2 separate regions of the Homo sapiens genome follow, and region 1 is linked to region 2. The links come from fine-mapping of genetic effects on gene expression. A gene starts in region 2. The other region holds a variant in brackets. All regions are shown on one strand. Distances are between the middles of the regions. Region 1 overlaps NR1I2 (nuclear receptor subfamily 1 group I member 2). Region 2 holds the start of NR1I2 (nuclear receptor subfamily 1 group I member 2).

Region 1 (5,372 bases), 28 kb before region 2:
TATGAATTAATGGTCACACACATCCCTGCTTGGTTAAAATGGAGGGTAAGGGGGACTGCAACCATGGTGTGTCATCCCAAGCATTCCAGATGTTGGGCTCAGGAGACTCAGAAGGTTTAGGGTGCTATGGATGGGAAGAGCAGATCTGAGGTCACTGGGCTAATCCAGTTATTTGGGCTGTGAAGGGCCACTTGAGATATCTATCAGTGCAAAGGGGAAGGAGGGCACTTAGAGCACAGACATAGTTAATGTGCTGGGATCAAGAAACACCAGTTCACAAAAGTCACACCCCCAACAGGTCCTGATCCTGTCCTCATAAAGCCCCGAATGCCAGCAACACTGGGGAACTGCCTAGCTTTCCCTCCACTTATTGCTTAGACCCAGTTCCTACCTGCCTTAAAGGAGAGAGCAGTGATTTTTCAAACCTGAACCTGCAACAGAATCACCGGGGGGTCCTGCCCCTCCCTGGAGCTTCAGATTCAGGAGATCTGAGGTGACCTGAAAATCTGCATGCTGATGCTGCTGACCCAGGGACCACACTTTCAGAACCTTTGGGAATGAGACTAAGGCTTTGAGGAGCTAGCACAGATGCAGGACCAGCTCTCCAAATCTACCCTCCACCACTGATTAGCTGTGACCTTGTATAAGTTTCTTATCCTTGGGGAACCTCAGTTTCTATGTGAGAATGAAGATGGCAGTGACACCTCGGGTCACTGTGCAGTTCCTCCTACCCGGAAATTCTTGAAATGGGAGAAGGTAGTGTCAAAGGTTTTCATCTGAGCGTCCATCAGCTCCCTGATCATCATCCGCTGCTCCTCTGTCAGCCCCTGCACTCCCAGTGGCTGAGTCCCTGTCCGTTCACTTTTCTTCCGCTTGATCAAGGCCCGCCTCTCCTCCACGGCCTCGTCGGACATGATCACTGCAGGGACAGTGAGGCTGGCTCAGGCACACGTGCCCCTGGTGAGCCTCCAGCCCCCTGGAGAGCCACTGTGTAACCCTCTCAAGGCAGCAGAAGCCGTTAGGCAAAAGAGAAAGTAATGGTGACAAGCAATTCTCCCCTGTCTGGACTCAAGAGGCCTGTGGGCTCTTCTGGAGAAACACTTGGGTGAGGACAGAGATGAGGTGAGGCTGGTGTTTTGCCCTCTGCAGTGGAGTTTGTGAGGACACTGTGGGGCCCTGGCAAGAGCACGGGCTTCAGAATCCAAAGGCGCTGGGTTTGCATGAAAGCTTTGCCACTTACTACCTGTGACCCCAAGCAACCTCCTTAACCTCTCCTGCCTCCAGGTTTCTCCTTTGTGATCCGGAGAAACCGTGTTTACCTCGCACCGCTGTTAAATGAGACCTTGCATGTAGGGTGCCTAATATAGTTCCTGGTACATAAGAGATGTTCAGTAAATGGCATCTACAATTATCATTTTCTGGTGAATTATATACCAAGACTCTTCAGAGGTGTCTGGGTCTCCAAGACCCTAGAGAGCTGGGCTACAGCTTAGCAAGAAATAGCAACTCCAGAGACTTCTTATATAGCCCAGAGCCTTAGGGTCTTCTGTGGATTTCTGGAGCCCACTCATGTGTGTAGAACAAAGCTATGAGGTCCTTGGTGGGGAGAGATCAAGAATGCCTGCCAGCAGCCTAGAGAACTTGTCCTTGAAAGAAGCAGCTTTGGGTCCCTTTGTGTTCCATGGAGACAAATATGCACTAGAAACACCTAGCCTTTTCCGCATGAGCCTTAATCTCATAGTGACCTAGGAGCACAAATATATCAAAGTTAAATAGGTAGAATGAGAACACCTCATGTCACCTGTCTGCAAACAGTTCCCCTATAAAGATCCAGGTCTGGGGCAGCTGATGGGGCTAGCACCTAGAAGGCCCCGGGTCCTATCACCCATGTGGCTCCTGCTTCCCTCCCCCAGATTCACACTCCTACCCGCAAATGTGGTTTCAAACCATTACAACAATTATGAAGGGGACAAAAAGAATGATGCAGGAGCAACTGAGGGGAGACAGAGGGCACGCCCTGTCCAGGGCTGCCCAGCACACATCCCAGGGCAGAGATTACCGACTCCCTCCATCTCCCAGAGGGCCGACTGCAAGCGCTCCCCCAGGTGGCTGCCTGTTGCACACGGACACCAGCTCACATGTGCACGTGTGTTCACGCGCACACTCGGCGCGCATCTCCACACAAGCATGC[C/A]CACACCCACGGCACGTCCTTACTCAGAGCCGTGCACCCCGGCGCCGGCCCGCCCGCGCGCCCACTGCTCACTCTCCTTCTTCATGCCGCTCTCCAGGCACTTGCGCAGGCGGCAGGCCTGGCACTGTCGCCGGGTCTTCCGGGTGATCTCGCAGGCGCCCTTCCGGAAGGGGCACCTCAGCCGGGCGTTGCGTTTCATGGCCCTCCTGTGAGAGAATGGGGAGCAGAAGGGGGGATGCACGGGTGCCCGGGCCCTCGGCCTGGGGCTCCGGGCCATACCACCTCCCTCCCCAGCCCCTACCGACTCGGGGAGGGGGACACTAGCCTTTGCGTCCCAGCTGGGTCAGGCTTTATGGGAAGGGTGTAGGTGGGAGTCCCTAGAGGTCCAGGACTCAGCTAGAGGGGGCAGAGCCGGGGAGGAGACCTTTTCTGGCCATTCCGGCAGGAAATGGGACACGTGCTTTTCGCTGGCGCGGGCAGCCCCAAAACCACTTTCAGGGACACTTCCTCTCCAGGCCCATCCTCAGCGCCTTCCCTTCTTCCTGAAACACCTGTCCCCTTCTCTTTCACAGCCTTGTTACCAGAAAGTTTCCATGGAGATGGGCCTCTTCCTCGATTTCCCCTCCTTAAGGGAGGGAGCTGAGGAAACCTGACCCCAGGAGGGTAAGAAACCAGAGAAGCCCGCCCCACCCCCCCGCCTTCCCCCCCGCCTTCCCCCCACCCCCCGCCGCCTTCTCCAGCTCCCCTTCCAGACTGGGCGGCCAGGGAGGAAGGGGTGAACTATGGGGAAGTTCTTATACCCTACGGGGCAGCGACTTCCCCATGGCAGAGTGGATTCCCCTCGTTGACCTAGGGGGCAAAGAGGTCGAGCGCCTGGAACAGCAGAGCGTGCAGGCGGGACCCACGGGCCCGCACACCCCTCTCTGCGGTGCGCAGAGAGGCAATGGGGCAGATGCCTTTTGGAGACTCTGGTACAAGATCTCCTCCTCCCAGCCCGGAAGTCCTGCCTGTCCCACAAAAGACACGGTCAGTGCAGTCCTACCTTTACTTTCCCCATCTCCACAGCTGGATGGAAAGAAACAATCTCTCCCTTGGCTCTGGCCTCTGATTCTGGTCCAGAGTGGAAACTGAGGGAAGGCTGGCCCAGGAGCATGGAACAGCCAGGTAGGGCTGCAGAGGTCCCCGAGGGCAGGCCTGGGAAGCTGAGCCAAGCCCGCAGTGACCTGGCAGGTTTGAGCTTGGAGGCCTCGGGCCTCGGACCAGTGACCAGCCCAGGGGCATGTTCTTCACAGATGCCATCCCTGCCTTTTGCCTTCCCAACTGGCCTGGGTAAGAAAACTCTGATGCTACATCAAAGTCCACTGAGAATGGGTAAAAGATGAAACCGGGGCTCACATTATTTAAAGGTATGCTATGTATCAGATGCTAGGCTAGGTATTTTGCAGTTTTGTAAATTTAGTTCTAAAACCCTGTGAAACTCATAATCTCATCTGCCTAGCACAGATGAGGGAGACTGAGGCTTGGAGACGATGGATCCCCAGCTGTCCTCCAGGTACATGACAAGCTGAAATTTGAATCCAGGTCTGCCTGATACTGGATTTAGCTTTTGCCCACTACAACATGTTGCCTTTTTCTGAGAGTCCCAGGAATAGTACCCAAATGAGGAAGGGAGAGCAGAAGATTCCTGCATGCTGAGGCAGGATGCACGAACACTGCTTGGGCAGCCTCTTCTGTGCCAGCAGCATCTGGAGCTGGTGCAGACATCCACCCTCTTCCACACAGTCAAGTGGCGTGTGCCCAGCTCAGGGACATACCTGCTGCTCTTTGCTAGTGACTAGTTCAGGCATAGGCTGGGCCCGGCTCTAGCCAATGTGAGGGGACTCCTGGGAAAGATTTCCTTACTCTCAAAGATGGGCCTTTGTGCGCTTCTGCTGAACATAATGATTCCTGCCTGGGGCCCCAGCACTGTGCCCCCACAAGGGGAGCCAGACTGCAATCAGAGCTCTCAGGTGGGATGGCTGAAGAGAAAAATGGAAAGAAATGAGCTGCTGAACTCACTAACCTGGAGGCCTTCAGACTTCCTGTTAGGAGAGGTAACACATTTTCCTTATTGCCAAACCAATTGGCGACAAGTGTCCTGTGACTTGTAGCTGAACCCAGTCTGACACTGCTGATGTGTCTCACCCCTGTTATAACTCATGCAACACGAATGTTCATTTCTCCCTGGAACCTGCCCTTTTCCATTTGAATGCCCAGCCACCACGAAGAACTCTGCAAAGGGCTGTCAGGCTGGCTGTCTTGGGAATGCATGAGGGTCCCACATGTGGCTCCCGAGATGGGAGCTGCTCCTTGCATACCCTGTGCCCTCCGGAGGGTGCACCTGGAGTGCTTCCTCACACATGGCTTTCTCCCCTCCCCGCCCTTCCCCTCCCTTCGGTCTGTTTCTCTTCCCATGGTCTAAGCATTTATTTTATGCCATTCTTTATGTAACAACCACCCCAGAAGGCGGATGTGAACACTTGGATTTGGGATTTTCAAATTCCTTATCTTTCACTGAGTCATTTTCCATTTTATTCAAGAGCACATGGAGAAACCAAGGGATATCTTAATGGAAGGAGACCTTTCCTGGGTAGAACAGGAAGACTGAAGATGAAGGATTCCTCTGGGATATAAATGGCTCCCTTGAGACTAATTACAAGGCCTTTGGGTGGGCCACCAGCCCACACTCTGAACCTGGGGGACAGGTCAAGCTGAGGCCCTGAGACGTTACCCAGTGGGTCAGTGGTGGCACGTGGGTGAAGGCTGATGGGTAACTCTACCTGAAAAAGCCCTTGCATCCTTCACATGTCATGACATTGAAGTGATAGCCAGTGGCCTTGTCCCCACATACACGGCAGATTTGGGGACCTCCGACTTCCTCATCTGCGTTGACACTGGGCTTTCCAGGAACAGACTCTGTGTCCTCACAGTGTACAAAGTCAGCATGGTTCCAGCTTTCTTTGGGTCTCACCTCCAGGTTTGCTTCTGGGCCTCTTGGACTAGAAATGAGAAAACCACAGAGAATGAAAAGACTGGACAGGGATGTGTAGAGGCCTCAGAGGAAACACTCTGTCCCTTCTATGCATCACTCACATTTGGGCCTGTGAACTCGGGAGCTGACCTCTCATGGGGAAAAAAAGCG
Region 2 (5,372 bases):
CAGTCGGTTCGGGTACTGTGGAGGGCTGTTTGGCAGCCAAAAATTGAACCACATATATCCTGTGATGTGGCAATTCAACGTCTTAGTAGTTCCTCTAGTGCAATACGTGCACATGTCTAGAAGCAGACAAACACAGTGAGGTTCATTGGTAAGACTGAAAAATTGGAAAAGCTTAAATATCTATCGAAAAGAAAACGGCTAAATAAAAGAAGTGTACACTGTGAAATATGACGTAGCAGTTAAAATAAATGAAGTAGAGCTCTATACAGATATGGAAAGTCTCCAAGTCTTGCTATTGAGTGGAAAAACAGAATTAGAACAACATGGCAACAGATAGGTTTAATAGTCCATCTATGCATAGATGAACACACACACAGACACAATGGTCTGGCAGTAAATATATCACACTAAGTACTTTTGGGGAAACTGGAGATTAGGATTGACAGAATGGCCAAAGGTGAATTTAGGTTTATCTATACTGCTTTCTCATTTTCAAGGAGCATGAAATCATGTATTACTTTATAATTTAAAAAGTTATTACCTAAAAAACCTAGTCTAGTCAGTTTTGTGGTTGTCTTGGGTTTATTCCATAATAATTTTGGAACAAGTTGACAGCTTTTAGATCAGGAGTTGGCAAACTTTTTCTGTTAAAGGCCAGATAGTTAATATTTTAGGCTTTGTGGGCCATACTGTCTCTTTCGCAATTGGTCAATTTTGCTGACTCAATGAATCAGCTATAGCAGGCACTATTCCTCTCCCACATGGCCTCTAATGATATGGCCAGAGTTGAAAGGATGTTGTAGGGCAAAAACAGCCATATACAATACATAACGAATGGGCATGGCTGTGTTCCAATAAAGCTTCATTTATAAAAACAGCTGGTGGGCCAGAGTTAGCCTGTGAGCCATAGTTTGTCAACCCCAGGTTTAGACTTTTATGACATAACTAAAATATTTTTAAAGCGTATTTGTGTACCACAAAATACTTTTTCCCATTAACCAACTGATTAAATAAGCCTCTGAGGCCTCCCTTAGCATCCTTTCAACTCTGACCATATCATTAGAGGCCATGTGGGAGAGGAATAGTGCCTGCTATAGCTGATTCATTGAGTCAAGACTCAGTGGCCTCAGAGGTGTCTGTTGACCTGTCCTAGATATGGAGTGGCCTTAAAGCAGTGCCTCTGGCCATAGCTTCAGCCGAGCTGGGCTGTAAAGTGGAGAGAAGAAGGACCTGGTGGCACTGACCACATGCAGGCAAGACTCGGTTCTGTGGGACAAGGTGCCCTTTCAATAGTAGAGGTAGAAAACTCACTGGTTTGAAGCCAACTCAGCCGCAGCACTGTGCAGGGGTATGGCAGGTGCTCTGAGGGACCCCTCCTTGAAGTGGTGAGTCCTGGTGACTGTCATGCTGCTGTCCTTGGCCTCAGGGGGCTGCCAGCACTAACCCAGCAGGCCAAAAGGAATCAGGACTGAGTTGATCCCAGTTCCCATAGTCCCCAGCTCCCACAGTCCTTGGAGGTGGTATTTCCTGGGTCCAGGGACTCCAGCCCTGTAACAGGGAGCTGGTTGTATGTGTGACTTGTGGTAACTCATGCAGTAGTTAAGGCTTCTCCTGTGGTGATTTTTCTAGGAGGCTAGTGCAGGACCAGAGAGCATCAGTAATGGGGCTCAACATTAAGTGATTGTTTTCATGCTTTTTTTTTTCCACCCTAGAAATGAGGAGACAGCAGCAAGGCCAACATGATTCACGACCCACTATGATGCTGACCTCAAACAGAAGGTATATTTGTGTTCACACACATCTTTTGGCTGGAGCTGAAGGGCGGTCAGCCCCCAGCAAAAGAGAAAGAAAGAAAAACCATACCTGCTTGGTGGTAAGTTCTTTGCTCCGACTTCTCCCCTGGGGTCCACTTTGAACAATCCGGTGCAAAGGATCGATCAAGGAGTAGCTTTACCAAGGAGCCGCTGCCTTGTTCAGGACAGGAGTATTAGCTTATTCTCTTGCTTTTCTCACTGTGAACACTTGGCTTGCAGGCTGAGGCCGAGATTCCCACTGAAGTAAAGGCAGTGCTTCCTCTTCCCGTCCTAGTCATAGGTTATGATTTCCCCGGATATGAGACAATCTTGTCTCTCACCTATATTTCAGTCCAAGTCAGATGTAGGCACTAAGCGGCTCCATTGCCCCTCCTAAGTCCCAAGTCCAGCACTTGAACTAGCAAATGAAGAGATTACCGTATTTGTTCTCATTATGTTCTCCCTACTTTTTTCTTTCAGGTCTCTTCACTACAAAAACACAGGAAAAGGGGAAGAGAGTGGCAAATATCCGCTTTGTCTAAGTAATTCTGAGTGCATTTCATCAGTCTGAGGGTCTCTGTCCTTTACCACTAGGGGCAACATTAATTTGAACCTAGATCTCCTTATACTTCCTCCTTTGTTGAAACCACCTCCCTGGATAGTGTTACTTGATGTGAAAGTGAGCAAAGTATTGATTTATGACGGTGCCAATCACCAGCATGGTTATGTAAGAGGGGGGCAGGCACACAGGGAGAGGGAAAGGGTGTGAGATGAGGGGGCTGAGCACAGTTCTCGAGAATGTGACCCCACCACTTTGATCTCAGAACAGAAGGCTGACCAGGAGTGGGGAGGATGGACCAGCTGAGGGCTCTTTCCTCTCCCGGGTCCTGCCAGAGGGGAGCTGAAGAGTCCTCACTCTTCAGCCTCAACCTTCTTATTCCCTAGCAGCAGGTGCTCCCAAGTGAACAGAATCAACAAAAGCCGAATGTGGTGGATACCAGGATGTGTTTCTTCTACTTGCTTTGTTTATAAAGATGCTTTATGGCAGGTGAGGGGAGTGGAAGTAACTGCTCCTACCTAAAAGGCAAACAAGTACAAGCCTCTGGCAACAGTAAAGCAGGGGCATGGGCCCCAACAAGAGAGGGAGAGGGAGACCACGATTGAGCAAACAGGTAGAAAAGAGAACCTGGGATTGCCAAAAAATGACCACAGTTGTCTTCAGGTGAACATTTGGACTTCCTTACATTTATTTATTGACTTAAGTTGTTATTATTTTGAAGTACATGCTTTAATCCAGCCCTGGTGAGAAAAGCCAGAATATCTAAGTATGATTTGTTTGTTTTGTTTTTAATTGGTTTCTTCTCTATCCAATTTGCACTTCCCAAGGGATGAGAAAGACTTGAGGCTGGGATTTCCTAGGGGTTGACATTTCTCAAGTGGATGCTTGCCTTGCTGTTTTCAACCAAGCGCAGAATGTAAGGTGCTTACACAGCTCACTGCTGGGGACTTACTGCCAGCAGTGGGGACTGGGACCCACAGCCATAGAGCTCTGTCCTTTTTCCAGTCACATTTCTGATTATCCACATGGGATTCTGCTAGGGCTAGGAGGTATTGGATTACAAATCCCACTGGACAGAAAGTTGACTTGGGCCTTAGGCAGGGAGGACCTAGAGTAAGTGAAATATTGAATGTCATGAGGATATTGGAAAGAAAAAGAGTAAGTGAAATACTGGATTTCAGTACCAGTGGAAGTAGCCTGAACAGTGTGCTCTGGGGTAGGAGGACAGCATGGGGCTATATCTGGGGCCTGCAGGTCCCCTGAGAAACACAGATCAGAAGGCCATGGCTAAAGCCAAAGAGGGTGGGAAAGCTGGAAAGGGTTAAGAACTCACCCCAGGAAACTTATTTCCAAGATCAAAAGTAGGCCTTTCTGCACTGACAGGTATCTCCAAGTCCAGGGAAAAAAGGCATGACTCCAGCTCAGGTAGGCCACCTTGCCAGAAGTCCTTAGGTTATGGGTAACATACGTAGCTTTCATCATCTCTCAAATCCCTTCTGGCTCACAAGGGCCTGACCTTCTCTCTCTTAAAAATATAGTGAATTATTTACAGCAGAAACAGGAAACTAAGAACAGATTATGAAACCACTGAGGTAAAGGAAATATTCTCAGGTTTCTGCAGGGATCTTTGGGTCTCTTTTCCTTTGGGTCTGTGGTGTGAAGTCCCAGCTAGAAGACAGGAGAAGGCTGTAGGAGTGCCAGGCCTCTCTAGTCTAGCACTGCACTGTTAATATCAGACATGGCTCTATAGTGAAATGAGTTAAGAATACAGCCAGAAAATACACTCTCGTTCTTAAGGACAGCTTACTAATGCCCTCAGTTGAGGGCCAGAGTCACTCTCAAGCCCAGCTGGGAAGTCAGAGAAATTTGAGGCCTTGACCTCCATTCTATACTTTGCCTATTGCAGCAACCAGAAATGTAGAGCTCCTAAGAAACTCATCAGAGAAAAGCAGATCTGATCAGCCTGAAGAGTTTCTTTTTTTTTTTTGAGACAGTGTTTTGCTGTGTCACCCAGGCTGGAGTGCAGTGGCATGGTCATGGCTCACTGCAGCCTCAACCTCCTGGGCTAAAGCAATCCTCCCACCTCAGCATCCCAAATACCTGAGACTACAGGTGTGTGCCACCATGCTTGGCTAATTTTTTTTTTTGTTTTTCTTTTGTAGAGACGAGGTCTCATTATGTTGCCCAAGCTGGTCTCAAACTCTGGGGCTCAAGCAATCTGTCTGCCTTGGCCTCCCAAATTGCTGAAATTACAGGCATAAGCCATTGTACCTGGCCAGTTTCCTCAGTGTGAATTCATTTAATGTTTTACCCCTCTCCAGAGAATATTAATATTTAAAAAGAGGAACAGAGAGAACAAAATAAAAGAGTGATGCACTGATGATATAAATTCAGGTGGAATCTGAGGAAAATAGGTGTTTATCAGCCAGTCACATGGTCTTTCTCAAAAATCTCTTAGCCTCCCTCTGGGGTGTGCTCAGGGGCACTTAGGGCAGGAGCATGGAGGTGACACTCTGATCCCCATGAGGCAGTCTTGGAGGAAACTTCTCCCTTTTCATCCTTAAGTGGAGGTAGTAGAAGTTACCCAAAAAGGCTAGGAATAGGAATCTTCTCTTTGAAAGCGGTTTCATTTTATCACAAGTAGAAGCAGTGACACAAAGTTTAACTTCCCAGAAATCGCAGATTCCAGCAACTGGAGGACCACTAAATTTGAGCACCAGCTGTTCCAGATCCTATAATTACTCTGAGGCTCCATAAATTACACTTGTGGTCAGAATTCCAATGTCTCTCTTAGAATTTTGGAACACTTTGTTTTCACCTCATTTGTAAATTACACTGCAGAATATGGTATCTGTGACTTCCTGCCTTAGTTGCTTATAAGCCCCCTGAGAGGAGAAGCCCTTATATCACCTGGTACCAATTGCATTTGGTGGCTGCTCAGTTCAGTGTAGTAATTCTTTTAAATATGGTTTTTACTAATATGCTTTAATAGAGTTCTGCCTTTATTGAAGAGAAGAAAA

Evidence for each region.
Region 1: its variant is fine-mapped to the expression of NR1I2 in hypothalamus (GTEx, PIP above 0.99). The same link has a PIP of 0.9 or more in whole blood.

Annotation. Positions count from the first base shown.
Region 1 is chr3:119,807,086-119,812,457 of GRCh38, reverse strand. It overlaps NR1I2 (nuclear receptor subfamily 1 group I member 2), which reads right to left. Exons shown (of 9, transcript NM_003889.4): 2 at 5,011-5,229; 3 at 2,264-2,397; 4 at 732-919. The coding sequence starts at 5,207. Among named protein-coding and RNA genes, the nearest start is that of NR1I2, 28 kb to the right of the region's middle. RefSeq lists enhancers at 2,222-2,281, 2,259-2,762 and a silencer at 2,492-2,751. The variant C/A (reference allele first, on the strand shown) is at 2,192.
Region 2 is chr3:119,778,792-119,784,163 of GRCh38, reverse strand. NR1I2 (nuclear receptor subfamily 1 group I member 2) reads right to left here and starts at 2,063. Exons shown (of 9, transcript NM_003889.4): 1 at 1,864-2,063.